Regions from separate parts of the Homo sapiens genome. Here region 1 is linked to region 2. Evidence: fine-mapped expression QTL. A gene starts in region 2. The other region holds a variant in brackets. All regions are shown on one strand. Distances are between the middles of the regions.

Region 1 (8,504 bases), 22 kb after region 2:
GAGAACGAATTCAGGGTGAGTCCATAGAGTAAAGTGAAAGCAAGTTTATTAGGGAAATAAAGAAACAAAAGAATGGCTATTCCATAGGCAGAGCATCCCTGAGGGCTGCTGGTTGGCTATTTTTACTGTTATTTCTTGATTATATGCTAAACAAGGGGTGGATTATTCATGAGTTTCCTGGAAAAGGGAAGAACCCCAGAACTGAGGGTTCTACTCCCTTTCAGACCATATAGGGTAACTTCCAGATGTTGCCATGGCATTTGTAAACTGTCATGATGCTGGCGTGTGTCTTTTAGCATGCTAATGCATTATAATTAGCATATAATGAGCAATGAGGAATTTTGTCACCACTTTGGTTTTGGTGGGGTTTAGCTGTCTTCCCCTGCCCCCCACCCCCCCAATCCAGTTTTATCCGCAGGGTCTTTGTGATCTGTATCTTGTGCTGACCTCTTATCTTATCTTGTGACTTAAGAATGCCTAACCTCCTTGGAATGCAGCCCAGTAGGTCTCAGCCTTATTTTACCCAGCCCCTATTCAAGATGGAGTCGCTCTGGTTTGAATGCTTCTGACGCCGTGATTGGTTTAGACTCAATCTCACACTCTCTTTGTGGCATAGGAGATGTGTTTTCAGAAATCCAGAAAGGAGCTTAGACAAAACAGTAGTCTCAGGGAACATAGCTAGTTAAGTGATGGAACTGAGATTTGAAGTCAGATCTGTCTGACTCCAAAGTCCATGTTTTTTTTGTTTGTTTTCTCTGTGGTTTGTTGTTTCTATGATGTGGCTTCTGTCACCCTGACTCTCCTTTTGTCTTTTGTCCCTCACCACCTTCTGTAGTTTCCCAGTCCTCCTGACTCATACCAGGGAAGCCTCCTGTGTCCATATACAATGAAGGCTCAGGGACTTCTAACTCCTGGTGGACTGGCTGATTGAGCCCTGGAAGTGTACTTTCTCCTTCATTTCCCTCCTGACTCTCGCTGGGAGAGTTGTAGACTCCTGGGAAACACAGGTCTATGGCCTGCCTAAGAGAGGACCAGCCCACACCAAAGAAAGTGCCACTGCCTCCTCCTCCTCAGTGGATGCCACCAAGCCCCGAGGAGGACAACCTTTTCCTTAATCTCCTTGAAACCCAGGCAAACTTTGACAAAAGGAAAGGTGTTTCCAGTGTGTTGTTAACTGAACCTTGGTTGCTTGGCAGTATGCAGTTCTTGTCTAATTTACCCCAAGGAAATGTCTGTGTGATGTATTTTTAATTTGCTGAAGAAGGATAAGTGTTCAAACCTTTGTACATTTATGCTGAAATTAATTTTTCAAAGTCCACATAACTTCAGTGCTGTGGGATAGTCCTTAAGAACAGAAATTATGACCAACCATAATAAATGACACATTTTTGTGAAATGTCATCTCTCATAAAGTTGTTGTGAAACTTAAAGAGGATGAAGCTTGGAAACCACCCAGCACCATGCTTGGCATATGAGTTGCCTTTCCTCTTATTCCCTTTCTAGCTCTTGGGGTAATAGAAGCTACAAGACGTAAAATTCCTGTGTGTATGGGGTAGGAATAGCTTTGGCTGTAAATAACAGAAAACTCAACACAAGAGCATAAAGAAAGAAGATCGGCCAGGCCTGGTGTCTCACGCCTGTAATCCCAGCACTTTGGGAGGCTGAGGCGGGTGGATCACCTGAGGTCAGGAGTTTGAGACCAGCCTGGCCAACGTGGTGAAGCCCCGTCTCTGCTAAAAATACAGAATTTAGCCGGTGTGCTGATGTGCGACTATAATCCCAGTTACCAGGGAGACTGAGGCAGGAGAATTGCTTGAACTTGGGAGGAGGAGGGTGCAGTGAACTGAGATTGTACCACTGCACTCCAGCCTGGATGACAGATGACAGAGCAAGACTCTGTCTCAAAAAAAAAAAAAAAAATCTTTTTCCCTCACAAGTCTGATGTTGGAATCTGGAATCTGTGGGTTTGGTTTTAGTCTGGGAGCCCACTAAACCTATGGCTAATAGTTGTTCAATTCTCCTGGCCTTTTCTTCAGGCATATTGGTAAATAGAGGTAGCCAAGGGAGAAAATGGTCAAGAATGGGTCTTGGGTCATCTAACTTGTAATATTTGCTACACTGAAGCTTTCAGTGTAATTCTTAGCTGTTCTGCAAAGCTGGGGAGGGAGTTGGAGTTGGTGGTCAGTTAGCAAGAGTCAACTTTGCTTTCTCCCCTTTGTGTAACTAAAAGACCCAGTAGAGCACAGTCAGATCCCATCTGGAACATATAGGGGTGTGTTAAGCTGCACAGTCAGTAGGAAGCCATTTCATGGGAGCCAATTGTTAAATTTTTAGGAATTTTGTGAGCCAGCTGATAAACAGACATTATTAAAAGTTGAATTATAGGCTGGGTGCAGTGGCTCACGCCTGTAATCCCAGCACTTTTGGAGGCCGAGGGCGGCGGATCACCTGAGGTCAGGAGTTCGAGACCAGCCTGGCCAACATGGCGAAACCCCATCTCTACTAAGAATACAAAAATTAGCCGGGTGTGGTGGCACATGCCTGTAATCCCAGCTACTTGGGAGGCTGAGGCAGGAGAACGGTGTGAACCTGGGAGGCGGAGCTTGCAGGGAGCCAAGATTGCGCCACTGCACTCCAGCCTGGGCGACAGAACAAGACTGTCTCAAAAAAAAAAAAATTGAATTATATGAACTTATAATTAAATGAAGTGCATACAAAAAGATAATAAATACTCAAACACCATCACAAATAATACTCAAATGCTACATTTTACTATTAACTATGCTCTTGGGGATATTTATGTCTACTGTATCTGTATGGTATTTTTAAAATGTGTTACTGTGCATTTCTTCCCATCTCTAAGTTTAGTAGTAGTATGTTGATGGCTTCAAATTGGCCATGGGAGTATTTAAACCAAAAGAAATCAGCAAATGCCACAAATCTGTCAATTATTTATTTGAGAGAATTAGTTGCTGAACATTCACCAGCACACCACTGGGCTCAATCCTAAAAATCAGTAATTTGGAGACAGGATGGAAGTGCATGTACATTTGGGATAATTAAGTAGGAATTTCAAAACGATTTTCAGATCCTTGCCAGAGATAAAACACAAACAAGTGGTTTCTTGTGTTCGAAACTAATGCAATAAGAATGCGCTTCATAGGCTGCTTTCGTTTTGCAGGGATACAGAGAGAAGTGTCATTTCCTCAGCTCTTGGTACTTAAGAGTCATTCCCAAACAACAGTGTTCATTGTCACTATCATCCTTAATAAAAACTCACTGCACCTCTACTATGAGTGAGATTCTGAGCTTAACCAAGTGACATAAAAGATGACCTCTGTTTTCAAGGAGCTGATGATTAAACTAGAATATTCACAGAAAAAAATAAATGAGAGAAGTCTATTCTGAATGCTTCATACTTTCTCTTCATAGCACTTACCTTGATTTGTAAATATACACATACACACAAATATTTATATTTATATATTTGTGTATATATTATATCTATACACACACACATACATAGTGTATACTTGCGTAAATGTTTGTTTCATATTGTGTCTTCTATTAGCCCACAAGTTCCATTGGGGTGGCAGCTGCATCTCATTGTTCACAGCAGCGTCCTTGTATCTGCTCAGTGTCTGGCAGATAGTAGGTACTCAATTAATGTTTGTGGAATGTACATAAATAAAAGAAATGAACATTATGGACAATTGGAGCTATAAGAGATGAGAGGAAGGAACACTTAGCAATGACTGGAATGATTGGAAAGGCTTTAAGGAGGTGCTAGGACTTGAGTAGGACTTCGAAGGAAGGGTAAGGCATAAATTAGTTACATGACACATTCTACAGAAGATATGTAAGCCTGGAATGGAAAGTTTATTCCTTTTGTTGGAGTTGGAACAAACCCAGTGGAGCTTCTGGGTTAGGGTCACCAGGGTTATATTCAACTGAACTGTGGTATTACCTGGACTCGAAGGAGCTAGATGCAATTTGAGAAGCAAATGCAGATCAAGGCCCGGAAAGGAACTCAAGGTTGAGTGAAAAGAACGATATCCATTCAGAGATCTAAAGGACAATTTTGAGGTCGCACCTAAGAGACTAGGGAAGCAAAAAAATGCAGGATGGCAAGCAAGGCTGGAAGAGGCAGAGTTTTATTTAGCCTGTGCTCTTCTTCTTCTTTTTTGCCAAGTAAGTTTGGTTTATTAGAACATAACACACTTTAAGCTTGTTAGAAACTTACTTACACATAAAATAAACAGAGCTTAGAATGTTTTCGTTTTATTATTATTTTAAATTAGAGACGGGATCTTGCTATGCTTCCCAGACTGGTCTCAAACTTCTGGACTGAAGTGATCCTCCTGCCTTGGCTTCCTAAAGTGTTGGGATCATAGGCATCTGCCACCAGCCCCGACCTAGAATATTTTCTTTTCTTTCTTTTTTTTAAATTTTTTTGAGACAGAGTCTTACTCTGTCTCCCAGACTGGAGTGCAGTCTGGGTTCGAGCGATTCTCACCTCAGCCTCCGAAATAGATGGGCTTACAGGGATGTAAAAATTACCACGCCCTGCTAATTTTTGTACTTTTAGTAGAGACGGGGTTTC[A/G]CCATGTTGGCCAGGGTGGTCTTGAACTCCTGGCCCCAAGTGATCTTTCCATCTCGGCCTCCCAAGGTGCTGGGATTATAGGTGTGAACCGCTGCACCCAGCCTAAAATATTTTCTTGATGGCTATTACAATAAGAAATAAAAATATAATAACTTTGTTTCCCCACTCTTTGTAGCCTCATTTCCCTCACTCCCTATTGGGCATTCAATATATAGTTCCAGATAGAATAAAATAAATCCTCAATACGAGATTAAGCTTAAAAGACTATTCAGGAAACCATTTTTTGAACAAAACTAAACCAGAACATGTTTCTCACAAATGCCAATTAAAGAAACAAGAAATAAAATCCCTATCATTATTAATATATTTAAATATAATGTGCATCTTGCCACAGGCTGCATTTTAGGATACTTATTTCAGATGTATTAGGGAAATTTTGGAAATACAAAAAAGATGAAAAATTAATGCTAAAGGAGTAATTATAAATCAAGACAGAAATGATATTATGGGCCAGGCGCAGGGACTCACGCCTGTAATCCCAGCACTTTGGGAGGCTGGGGCAGGCGGATCACCTGAGGTCAGGAGTTCAAGACCAGCCTGGCCAACATGGTGAAACCCTGTCTCTACTAAAAATACAAAATTAGCCAGAAGTGGTGGCACACGCCTGTCATCCCAGCTACTCGGGAGGCTGAGGCAGGAGAATCACTTGAACCCGGGAGGTGTAGGTTGCAGTGAGCTGAGATCATGCCATTGTACTCCAGCCTGGGCAAAAAGAGTGAAACTCCATCTCAAAAACAAACAAACAAAAATTATGGAAGCATTGTACACAAATCAAAGTGGGAAAATTGTTTTAGAAGTAGGTAAGTCAAGATAAGAAATATCAGAAAAAAAAAGCCCTTTCTTTTTTCAACCAAGATTTGCTAAAAGGTTTTTGTTGTCCAGTAATTCACATTGATCCACAAAGACAGCATTAAACAAAATAGGCTTAAACTGTAATATAAGATATTTAGGTTGCATAATACAAGATTTGTTTCAGTGAAGATTACTAACCAACAGAATTTTGGTATAATAAATATAAATGTCTTTTCATATATTTTTATTTTATTGAGCAAATGTAAGAGGGTTGATAATCTATCACATCTCTTCTATGCTTTTTGCTTCAGGGTATTTACAGATTTAACAGGGTTTTTTTCCTCTTGTTATTTATTCAATTATAATTAAAGACTTTACCTGCAGAAATAAGTCACATGAAATAACAATGGAAAATCTGAACAAAATTGATTACTTCCAAATATCATTTCACAAAACAACCATTCTGTCTTATGGTATATCCCAAATATATTAGGGAAAACAAGAATAAGATGATAATTCTTTATTTTCTTTCCTCTTACATCACAAAAAGTAAGCAAAAACAACAAATAAGAATCGCTACCAGGTGTGGTGGCTCATGCCTGTAATCCCAGCACTTTGGGAGGCCAAGGAGGGAGGATTGCTTGAACTCAGGAGTTGGAGATCAGCCTGGGCAACATAGCAAGAACTTGTCTCTACTAAGAAAATAAAAATGAAAAAATAAAAATAAAAAATCAGCTGGGCATGGTGACACATGCCTATAGTCCCAGCTATTTGGGATGTTGAGGTGGTAGGATCTCTTGAACCTGGGAGATCAAGGTTCCAGTGATCTGTGATCATGCCACTGCACTCCAGCCTGGGTGACAGAACGAGACCCTATCTCAAAAAAAAAAAAAAAAAAAAAAAAAAGAATTGCTAATGCAACCCATATTTTAAAGATTTATCCTGCATCTAGATGTCAAAGGAATAAAGGAGTGAACAAAAAGGGAACTATATTGATTCAGTGATTAAGGAATAAATGTTTTGTAGAAAACTTAAAGGTTTTCTTTTTTTTTTTTTGAGATGGAGTCTTGCTCTGTCGCCCAGGCTAGAGTGCAGTGGTACGATTTCGGCTCACTACAACCTCCGCCTCCTGGGTTCAAGCAATTTTCTGCGTCAGCCTCCTGAATAGCTGGGATTCCAGGCACCTGCCACCACACCCGGCTAAGTTTTGTATTTTTAGTAGAGATGGGGTTTCACCATCTTGGCCAGGCTGGTCTTGAACTTCTGACCACCTGCCTCGGCCTCCCAACGTGCTGGGATTATAGGCGTGAGCTACTGCGCCTGGCTGAAAACTTGAAGTATTTTTAGAAAAAGAGAAGAATTAAGTTTTCATAAAAGAAAATCTAAAACTAGAATGGGATAAAAGATTCCTAGGGCAGGTTGATAATATTCCAAGTGATGCTAAATACCTATTTATGGAAACAAATGGTTTTTTTCTTCTGTCGAGTTGCACCTATGCAAGACAGATGAGACAATGACTATGCACATTTACATTTTATGCTAAGACAAGGGAAGAATGAAAGCCTGGCTAGTTCTTGTACTTGTCTCTTTTTTAAAATATTAAGAAGAAAATGAAATGGAAAGAATGATTTAGAAAAGAAAAAAGGAGTATAGCTTGAGTACCATGAAGATGGCTCATTTAAGGAAGTGGTATAATGACAAGTTCAATAATTAAGATACTTTTCTTTTATTTCAGAGCCAACAAGAGGCAGTGTGCTCTAGAACAGCATTTCTTAAACATTTCTTAACCCCCTGGGGGTCATAAGAAGCCAATTCTCATTGAGCAGTTCTGGGGCAGGGCCTGATAGTCTGCATTTCTAGCAAGCTCCAAGGTAAAGCCATGCTTGCTGCTAGTCCAAGGCCAACACTTGGATCAGTAAAGCTGTAAAATTAATGTTAATCTAAGTCATAAAGAAGACAAATGAAAATGTCAGATAATTTTGTCCTAGGGAGAAGATTTAAAGCCCGGCTAATTTTTTGTATTTTTAGTAGAGACGGGGTTTCACCGTGTTAGCCAGGATGGTCTCGATCTCCTGACCTCGTGATCCGCCCGCCTCGGCCTCCCAAAGTGCTGGGATTACAGGCGTGAGCCACCGCGCCCGGCCGTACTCTTGATTTTTACATCCCATCGCCCTGCCCAGTTTTTCCCCCTCCTGCCTTTCCCATTTCATTGAATGGAATCTGTCTATTCTCCCTGGTACTCCTCATCCTTAATATTTCCCTTTCCTTCACCAGTCCTCCTTCCCACCAAGCCACAGCTAATCCAACAGCAAAACAAGTTCAATTAATTCTCTCTCTCTCTGTTTTTTTTTTTTTTGAGATGGAGTCTTGCTCTGTGGCCCAGGATGGAGTATAGTGGCAGGATCTCGGCTCACTGCAACCTCCACCTCCCAGGTTCAAGCGATTCTCCTGCCTCAGCCTCCCAAGTAGCTGTGCCACCATGCCCAGCTAATTTTTGTATTTTTAGTAGAGACAGGGTTTCACCATTTGGCCAGGCTGGTCTTGAACTACTGACCTCAGGTGATCTGCATGCCTCGGCCTCCCAAAATGCTGGGATTACAGGTGTGAGCCACTGCACCCGGCCCAAGTTCAATTAATTGTACCTCCACAATATATCTTGACTCCAATGACATCTCCTCTACTGACATATCTGTAATCCAGGATAACATCTGGACCACTCTGACTAGCTTTCTACCTAGTTTCTCAGCTGCCATTCTCACTCTTCTGTCTGTTCTCCACAAGAAACCAGAGTGATCTTTTAAAAATGTAAATTAGCCAATATCTCTCATGAACTTAGATGCAAAAATATTTAACAAAATATTAGCAACTTGAATCAAGCAATGTATAAAAAATTATATACCATGACCAAGTGGGATTTATTCCAGGGATACTGGGCTGCTTCAGTATTTGAAAATCAAATAATGTTATCCACAACATTAACAGACTAAAGAAGAAAATTCACATAATTATCTTGATTGATGAAGAAAAAAACATTTGACAAAATTCAATA
Region 2 (8,000 bases):
GTAAAGAGTGAAGAATTCTGACAGGGGGGTGGTTAAAAATCAGAATAAGTTATTTAGAGCAGCTGTGAGAGCTCACTCTCTTTAATAATAGAACAGACTCTTATGTGCCGTGGAATGATTTTGAAGTAATGCTATTCAAAATCAAAACTGGACAGCTTCTCAAAGTCCCTTCCAGACCCAGAGACCAAGAACATTTACATCCAACAATACTAGTGAGAACCAAACACATCTCTTCTGCAAAACACTATCTTTACTTAATTGGAGGATATTAACAAGGTGGCTTTCTATGCAGTTGTGTGTTTTGCTAGATATCTGGGTCTTTTTTATCTGCATTCTCCTTGCTTCTACTGAACCGGAAGTTAACAGCTTTCACTGTTCAAATATTAATTTTTAAACCAAACCCTAATTACAGCAGGGCCTCAAACTGATTTACCTAACTAGCTACATGACCTTGGACAGTCTTTTCTTGTAAAATGAGAGGCTTGGACTAAGACCCACTAGAATGTAAACACCACGTTCTGTTCAACACTCTACTCCCTGCCCCTGGGACAGGAAGGCATTAAGAGAAAACCATTGCTATCCCCAAACTACAAATATAAAAAAACTTAAGTCATTTCTTTCTTTTCTAATCAATTAGATTTTATTCTGTTTTTCCCATTTTTAAAGAAGACAATGACACTGAAATGTCCTGTGCAGCAAATAGAAATGTATATAATTTAAAATAAGGTACTCAGTTTTTAGAAATAAAAAGGATTAACTATATAATAGCTGACAATCTTCACCCAGTTTTTTTACTCTTCTTCCTTCCCTTTAACCCATTACTGTGTCCCATTCCTTTTTCCTTTGAAAGAGAGCCCGAAAGAGTGCAGGACTTCAAGCAAAAGGGCCTGAGTACTAGCCCCACCTCTTCTATTAACTGACTCTGTGGGGACAAGCCACTTCCCCTTTGGGGCCCGAAAGGGTGCATCTGTTAAACAAGGGAGCTGCACTAATTATTAATTTCTAAAGTATGCTTCTTTTTAAAAAATCTGATTCACCTTATATTCTACCCATTATTCGATTCTTAATGGTTGGTGCTCACCACATCATTGCACAGTAGCCTTAAAATATGTCTTTCCCTCATTATTTCTCCTTACTATCCATACTGTTACCAAACAAATTTAATCCTAAAACCATGAGTTGAGCAGAGTGAAAAGCACACTGGCTTTGAAGTCAAAGAGACCTGGGTTCAAATTCAGCCCCTGCCACCCACTACATAATCATATCCCTAAAAAGCCTACGTTAACTCTCTCACCAAGGGTTAAATAAACTGTATAACGCACCTAAGACAGGGCCTGACACCCTGTAGATGCTGGATAATATTTATTACCTTTCCCTATTTCCCAAGATCAAGAGCCTCAGTTTCCCACTGTGTACACCAAGGATGACCAAGAAGTTCCATAGGTGGCATGCATTAAGATTATTAAACCACAGAGGCACATTCTGCGTTAAATGTTTCCAAAAGGCTCCTGTGTGTCAGGAAAGTCTCAGCCTGCCAACCTCTGCCAATACGCTTCGTGGGTAAAGCAGCCTCAGTCACCAGCTCCTCTTGAACTCTTAAAAGTAAACGGTGCAGCTTCCCTCCCCCAGGCCAAATCCACAGGTCTAGGAGAAATGAGGACTTGATGCACTGCTTCGAAAAGATGGAGATTTTATGGATTTTAATTTACCGCAAACCAAACTCCTTAGCCTGCCATTCACGTAAGAAGCCACTCCCAATTCTTTGTACTTACATGTACTGGCAGTAAGCTAAGGTTAGCGCTAATGTTAACATGAATGCACCAAGCATTGTAATTTAAATTGATTTTCCAATCACAGGAAATTAAAAGGTATGACAAAAGAAAAAAAGAATCACATTTCTCACATAATGAGGATACACTGAGCTTTGCAGAGTTATACAAACACCTTCTGAAAAAGCAACGGCTTTCTTCTTGATTTCAAAACTGGGTCAAAAACTAGAAGGAACGAGGGAGGAGTGATAGGAACTGCCAATGAGAAGCTGATTTCTTAAAATGACTTAAGTATGGTTACTCAATTATATGGGAATTTAAAAAAATTCCCAAACTAGGAATAGTAACAATCTTTATTTCCATATACTAGTCAACGATACAGCTAAGTTAGTGGGTTACAGAGGGCAATCTAGCAACTGTGTCTAAGTGTGGAAGCCAAAGAAATCTTGTGCAGAAACCTGTTCTTTTTAAGTGCCACCTTCTTGTTCAAGCTACTTCAGCCCGAGGAACTGTTGCAAAAGCATACAATTAAAAGGATATAACACTGCTCAGGAAAAAGTGTTTCAAAAGGCTTAGCTTCACTAAGCTTAATTCTTCATTAAGAACGAACCAAATTCGTATCTCTACCTAATAACGCAATCCCAATAATTTGAGATCTGTGCTTTTCTGTGGTCAGGCCAAGCTGCTCTACTGGCCCCTGAAATGAACTACCCAACGAATCTGACCAAAATTCCTGCCATGAGCTACTATGTTTCTGCAAAGTAATTATTCAAAAGCACTGCTGCTTCTGGTCGATCTTTTTTCTTTATTATAGAAGAGTCCGTTTTCTTCCCCCACGTTCCTTGCTCACACCCCAAACTAAACAGGCATAGTCTTCTCCACCTAGACTTGAGGTCTCTGATCAAAGCCATTAGCCTCAAGACTCCTCCTCCACCCCCACTGCGCTCCCACCCTGTTCCGCGCCCCTCTGCATAGCACCCTCAGTATGACTACCATCTCTTTCCCCGGTCTAATTTTCTCTCATTTCTGACCTTATCGATGACCAGTACTCCCTCTTTACCCAGACCTGGTGCCAGCTCTATCTTCCAATTCCAGTCCCCATCCCTGCCTAGACCCTCCTCAGCTCCCACCCCTGCCCAGGCCTCCCACCTCTGCCCTCTCAGTGCAATCCCCACTGCTCTCATACCTGATTTTATTCAAGTCCTCATTCCTGGCCGCGGCCCCTTCCCTCTTCATTTTAAATCCTACTCAATGCCCCCCCTTTCCGACCCTTGGCTAAAACCCCAACCTCACTCCTAACCCCAACAGTTTTCCTGTGATCCTGTCAAAGACCACTACTCTGGCCGGCCCACACCGCTTTTTCTGACTCTGAGCCTGGTGCCTCCGCCAATCCTTCACTGAAACCTCGTGCCACAAAATCTCCGACCTAGCCTAGTGCACTAGTACCCCATTTCCGACCCCCTACTGCACGCATCCTTCCCACTATATGCTCAAGTGTCTGTCCTCCCATCTCGGATGATAGCCCTGGAGCCTCCTCCCCATCGTCGGCGTGCATAGCCGGAAGCCTAAGGGACCCCTCCTCACCCCAACCCACAGCTCCGCTGCGCATCCCTAATTCCCTTTCACACGCCTCTCCTATGGGTCCCTCTCCCCACTTACCCCCAATCAAGTGACTTCGGTTCCCAACTGGAGCCTGGGGCTTCTCTCTCTCTCTCCGCCCCGCCCCCACTAAAGCCCCAGTCGAATGCCCTCTCTCCCCACACCAAGCCCAGCGGGGTGTGTCCCCTCCCAGGAACTCCAGCCCAGTGGCTTCCCACAGAGGTCTGGGGTTGCCCCTCCTCACCTCCGCGTCCACCACCTCGTGGTAGGCGGGCGGGGGGTCGAAGCCGCCCCCGCCTCCGGTGCTCCCGCCGCGGGAGGGGCCGCCGCCGCCGCCGTCACCTCCGCCGTCGCCCCGCGGGCCCCCGCCGGGCCCGGGGCTGGGGCCACCGCCGCTGTCCATGGGCTCGTAGCCGCCGTAGTCGAGGCCCGGCCGCTCGTTGGTGAGCAGTGCCACGGCCTCGTTAATGTCGTTCTTGGCCAGGCGCAGGGCCTTGCGGATGGTGGCGGGGTCTGAGAAGCCCATGCACAGCAGCGTGGTCATGTGCTGCTCCTCCTCCGATTCCATGGCTTGGGCCTCCTGGCCGCCCCGGCCAGCGCACGGCGAAGCTACGGGTCCCGGGCCTGGCGGGCCGCGCGGCGCACCCTCCGCGCCGCCTCCGCGCCCAGGTTGGCCCCTGCGTTCCTGCCCCGGGTGCTCCGCAGCAGCCGGGCCAGGCTGGGTGCGGGCTTGGGTCCTGCGAGCCGAGCTAGTGCGGTGAGGCGCTCAGGCGCGGCTGCGGCCCGGCCCAGCCCTGCGCGCCGCCATGTTGGCCTCCTCCCCCTCCGCCTCCTCCTCCCCGGGCGGCGGGGCCGCGCCTCGGCTCCCGGAAGCGGCACGGGAGGCGACCGTGCTCGCCGTTGGCAGGCTAGGGTTGGCGGCGGCGTATTCTGTTTGTTTTAAACGAAGGAGCGGAGGGAGGGGCCGCGCCGCGGAGCGTGCCTAAGGTGAAAGGGCTGCCGTGCAGCCAGGCAGAGGCGAGGAAGGCTTCTCCATCGTCGCCACCGCCCGCCTGTTTCGCCGGCAACAGGTTCCCCCGGGACGGGAGGGGCCGCAGCGCCGCGCAGCTCGCAGCGCTGAACGTCGCGGAAATCCCTTGGCCGGCCGAGCCTCCGCAGCCGCGACCCGGCTTCTCTCCGTCCGAGTCCCCCGAGCCTCTCCGAACCCCCGTTGGACTTCCCCTCCCTGGCCGGCGCCGCCCGACCCGCTCCCCCATCCTAGAGGGAATTCCCTGCGCCGCGGCTGTGAGGCACCTCCACCCCGGCCTGAAATGCACCGCAGTCCTGAAGGAAATCCACCCTCATCCCACGCAGATTCACCCGCAACGCTGCCTGAATACGCCTCGCTGCCCACAGAAATTCCTGCCCAAACCAGACGCGTGGACCACCCAAGACGAAATTCACACTCGACCCTAGCCCCGCCAGCCCTTGCCGAAATCACCCTAAACCCGTTGAAATTAATTCCCAGCTGTCCGAATTTTCCTTCCAACATTAACTGACTACCTGTCTCCGCCAAGCTGACTGAACTCTACCGAACTCTTACCCTGAAAGCCCCTGAGAGTCCAAAATATATTTTTCCAGCCCGAAATCTAAATCCCAGTTCTCTGTATGAAAACCTCCAGAAACCCAGACTCTTACTTCCTTCGGCCACGGACTCGTTCGAACATCGTGGACATCACCTTCCCACATTTTTACCGCAGTCTTTGGCTCCGATTCTTTGTCCCTGCCTCTTGGGCAGCATCCTATCCCTGTTTCTTTCCACCTTTGAGGATTCCTCTACCTCTTTAAAGGCCTGCTTTCTTTGCTTTCTCTTCTCACCTTTGGCATTGGCACACTGGGGTCATATCTTTAGTTCCCTTGACTCCACCATCTAAGCCAAGGGTGTCCAATCTTTTGGCTTCCCTGGGCTACATTGGAAGGAGAAAAATTGTCTTGGACCACATATAAAATATTCTAACGCTAATGGTAGCTGATGAAACTTTTAAAAAATCTCATCATGTTTTAAGAAGTTTACGAATTTGTGCTGAGCCGCATTCAAAGCCGTCCTGGGCCTAAGTCCTTGCTATTTTTCCTCTTCAATTTCCTTCAATCCATAGTTCTCTAGGTTATTTTCCCACCCTTTCCCAAGATTCGGATATCCCTTCATTCTTGCTGAGTTCATCTCCTATGCCTATTCCTACATACTTGCTGAGTTCATCTTCTAATGTCCTCATCCTGGTTTCTTCCTGAACCTGAAATCCAGCTAACCTTACTTTTTCATCCCATCAAACCCCTGCTGTTGCCAGCCCAGCACTCACGAAGATCTTTACATACACCAAATATTAAATTAGGGCCGGTACCTAGACATTGTCTCTGCACTCTGCTGGCATATTTTCCCCTGGACCACGAACCCTTCGTACCTAGTAACTTGCCACCTGTGTTTATAAATACCAGCAATTTGATTTACAGGGTGAATTTGTCACTATTGTTTACTTTTAAATGAAGTTACTGTATTTGTTGTTTCCATTAAAGGCGACATTATAAAGCCTAGGCCTCATATCCAAAGCAAATAAAGTCTCAATTTTTTAATTAAAAGTAACAAAAGGAAACCTCACACTTCTGAACAACAATGACAAGAAGGAATGCCTATAATTGGTTTGGGTCACAATGTACATATTGAAATAAAATTTTTATTAAGTATCAACTTCCAGGTACACAATGAAGTTTTAAATGTTTATCTGTGACATATGAAGAACAAAGCAATCTAAACTGATGTAAGCAGGCTGTCATAAGGTACATGCTGAGGAATTTATTCAACAAATTGAATAAATTTATTCAATAAATAAATAATTATTCAATAAATAATATATTTAATAAATTTAATAAATAGAATAAAAATGATTCTATTTACTGGGTGCCAGGTACTATTCTTCGCACAGACAAAAATTAGATGATGGCAAAGTGAGGGCATTCAATTCTGCCCTGTGTTTGAAGAGTTAATTACTAAGAAATGAATTACAAGGAGAGAGGAAGTAACAAGTAACAAAAAAATTGTTTGCCACTAAAATTTGAGGTAGAACCTAAAAGGTCATGAAAGAGCCGACTGAATCAGATGGCACGTTAAAAGACTCATCAACGGTGGCAGGTTTATAGAACATGACAGAGGAAGCTGTGCTTAGCTGAGAAGAGGAAGCAGAGAAGGAAGCAGAGAAAAACAAAGTCTGTGATAAAAACTGGAAAGGAGCCACAAAAGGCCACAAAAAACAAGGAAGTCCATTTTGGAACCGGATCCTGGAGTGACTGAAAAGGCAGAGTGTCATTTGAGGATGCGAGTAGTATAATCATACTTTTTTGCATGGAAGAAAGCAAGTGAGTACTTTAAACTGTGGAATTGGGATAGCAGGGGTGGGGCCTATGATATGAATATTCATACTTTTCATTTACATTTTTATTTTTATTGCAGTAAAATCTAGAAAATGTTGAGAGGATTTTTAAAAATTTAAATTACATTCAATTCCCATACATCTTTCTCTAGAAAGGTTCTAAAGGAAAAGAAAAAAATAGCTACATAGAGAAGTAAGGTATGATGAACTATCTTGAAGACTGAGGGTTTTCTACTGTTAATAAGTAAGTTTTCAAATTATAGATTGAATATCTACTTTGAGCCAGGCTGAGGACTAGGGAGACAATTGTGAGAAAAACATTACACAATTTCTACCCCTTTGGATCTTACTGTCTATAATAAAGGGAAATAGACAAATAATAGTCATAAAGCATGATAGACGCTTTGATGGGGGAATTTCAGGATATAAGGGGCAAATTTCTGCCCTCTGTGGGGGTAATTACCAAGTCTAGGAAAACTGAAAATTTTCCCAGAGAAGACGACGTTCAAACTATAATCTGACGTAAGGTTGGAAAGCCAGGAAAAGGAATATGAAATGAAGGGAGAAAGTTCCAAAGAACGGGAACAACATGTGCAAAGGTCCTGTTGTGGGTGAGAATAAAGCAATTTGGAGGAATTAAAAGCCAGTGGAGTATAGAATTCTAGAGAGATATGGATTGAGCATTCCTAACCTGAAATCTGAAATGCTCCAAAATCTGAAAAAAAAAAGTATTTTCTTATTCTTTTTTGTCTTCTTATTAAGAGATGGGGTTTCACCATGTTGCTCAGGCTGGTCTCAAACTCCTGAGCTCAAGTGATCTTCTCACCTCGGCCTCCCAAAGTGCTGGGATAACAGGCATGTGTGAGCCACTGCACCCAGCCCAAAATTTGAATTTTTTTTTTTTTTTTTTTTGGAGACAGAGTCTCACTCTGTCACCCAGGCTGGAGTGCAGTGGCACCATCTCGGCTCACTGCAACCTCTGCTGCAGGTTCAAGCAATTCTCCTGTCTCAGCCTCCTGAGTAGCTGGGATTACAGGCATCTGCCACCATGTCCAACTAATTTTTGTATTTTTAGTAGAGGCGAGGTTTCACCATGTTGGCCAGGCTGGTCTCAAGCTCCTGACCTCAAGTGATCTGCCTCCCTTGGCCTACCAAAATGCTGAGATTACAGGTGTGAGCCACCATGCCCAGCCCCCAAAATTTGAAAACTTGAGTGGTGACGTGATGCCAC

Which allele goes with the higher level. Positions count from the first base shown, and alleles are read on the strand shown. Sizes are in standard deviations (SD) of each study's normalised expression.
As copies of G replace A in region 1, the expression in testis of the gene that starts at base 4,187 in region 2 goes up (small effect, 0.22 SD a copy in GTEx).

The links. PIP is the estimated chance that this variant, and not a neighbour inherited with it, causes the effect.
Region 1: its variant is fine-mapped to the expression of USP24 in testis (GTEx, PIP 0.94).

Annotation. Positions count from the first base shown.
Region 1 is chr1:55,232,777-55,241,280 of GRCh38, forward strand. MIR4422HG (MIR4422 host gene) reads left to right here. Exons shown (of 2, transcript NR_146283.1): 2 at 836-1,401. Among named protein-coding and RNA genes, the nearest start is that of MIR4422, 11 kb to the left of the region's middle. RefSeq lists an enhancer at 7,528-8,027. The variant A/G (reference allele first, on the strand shown) is at 4,604.
Region 2 is chr1:55,211,178-55,219,177 of GRCh38, forward strand. It overlaps USP24 (ubiquitin specific peptidase 24), which reads right to left and starts at 4,187. Exons shown (of 68, transcript NM_015306.3): 1 at 3,613-4,187. The coding sequence starts at 3,936. MIR4422HG (MIR4422 host gene) reads left to right here and starts at 6,684. Exons shown (of 2, transcript NR_146283.1): 1 at 6,684-6,755. It overlaps LOC100507634 (a long non-coding RNA gene), which reads left to right and starts at 4,231. Exons shown (of 1, transcript NR_038320.1): 1 at 4,231-6,278. RefSeq lists an enhancer at 3,075-3,134 and silencers at 3,595-3,784, 3,855-4,364.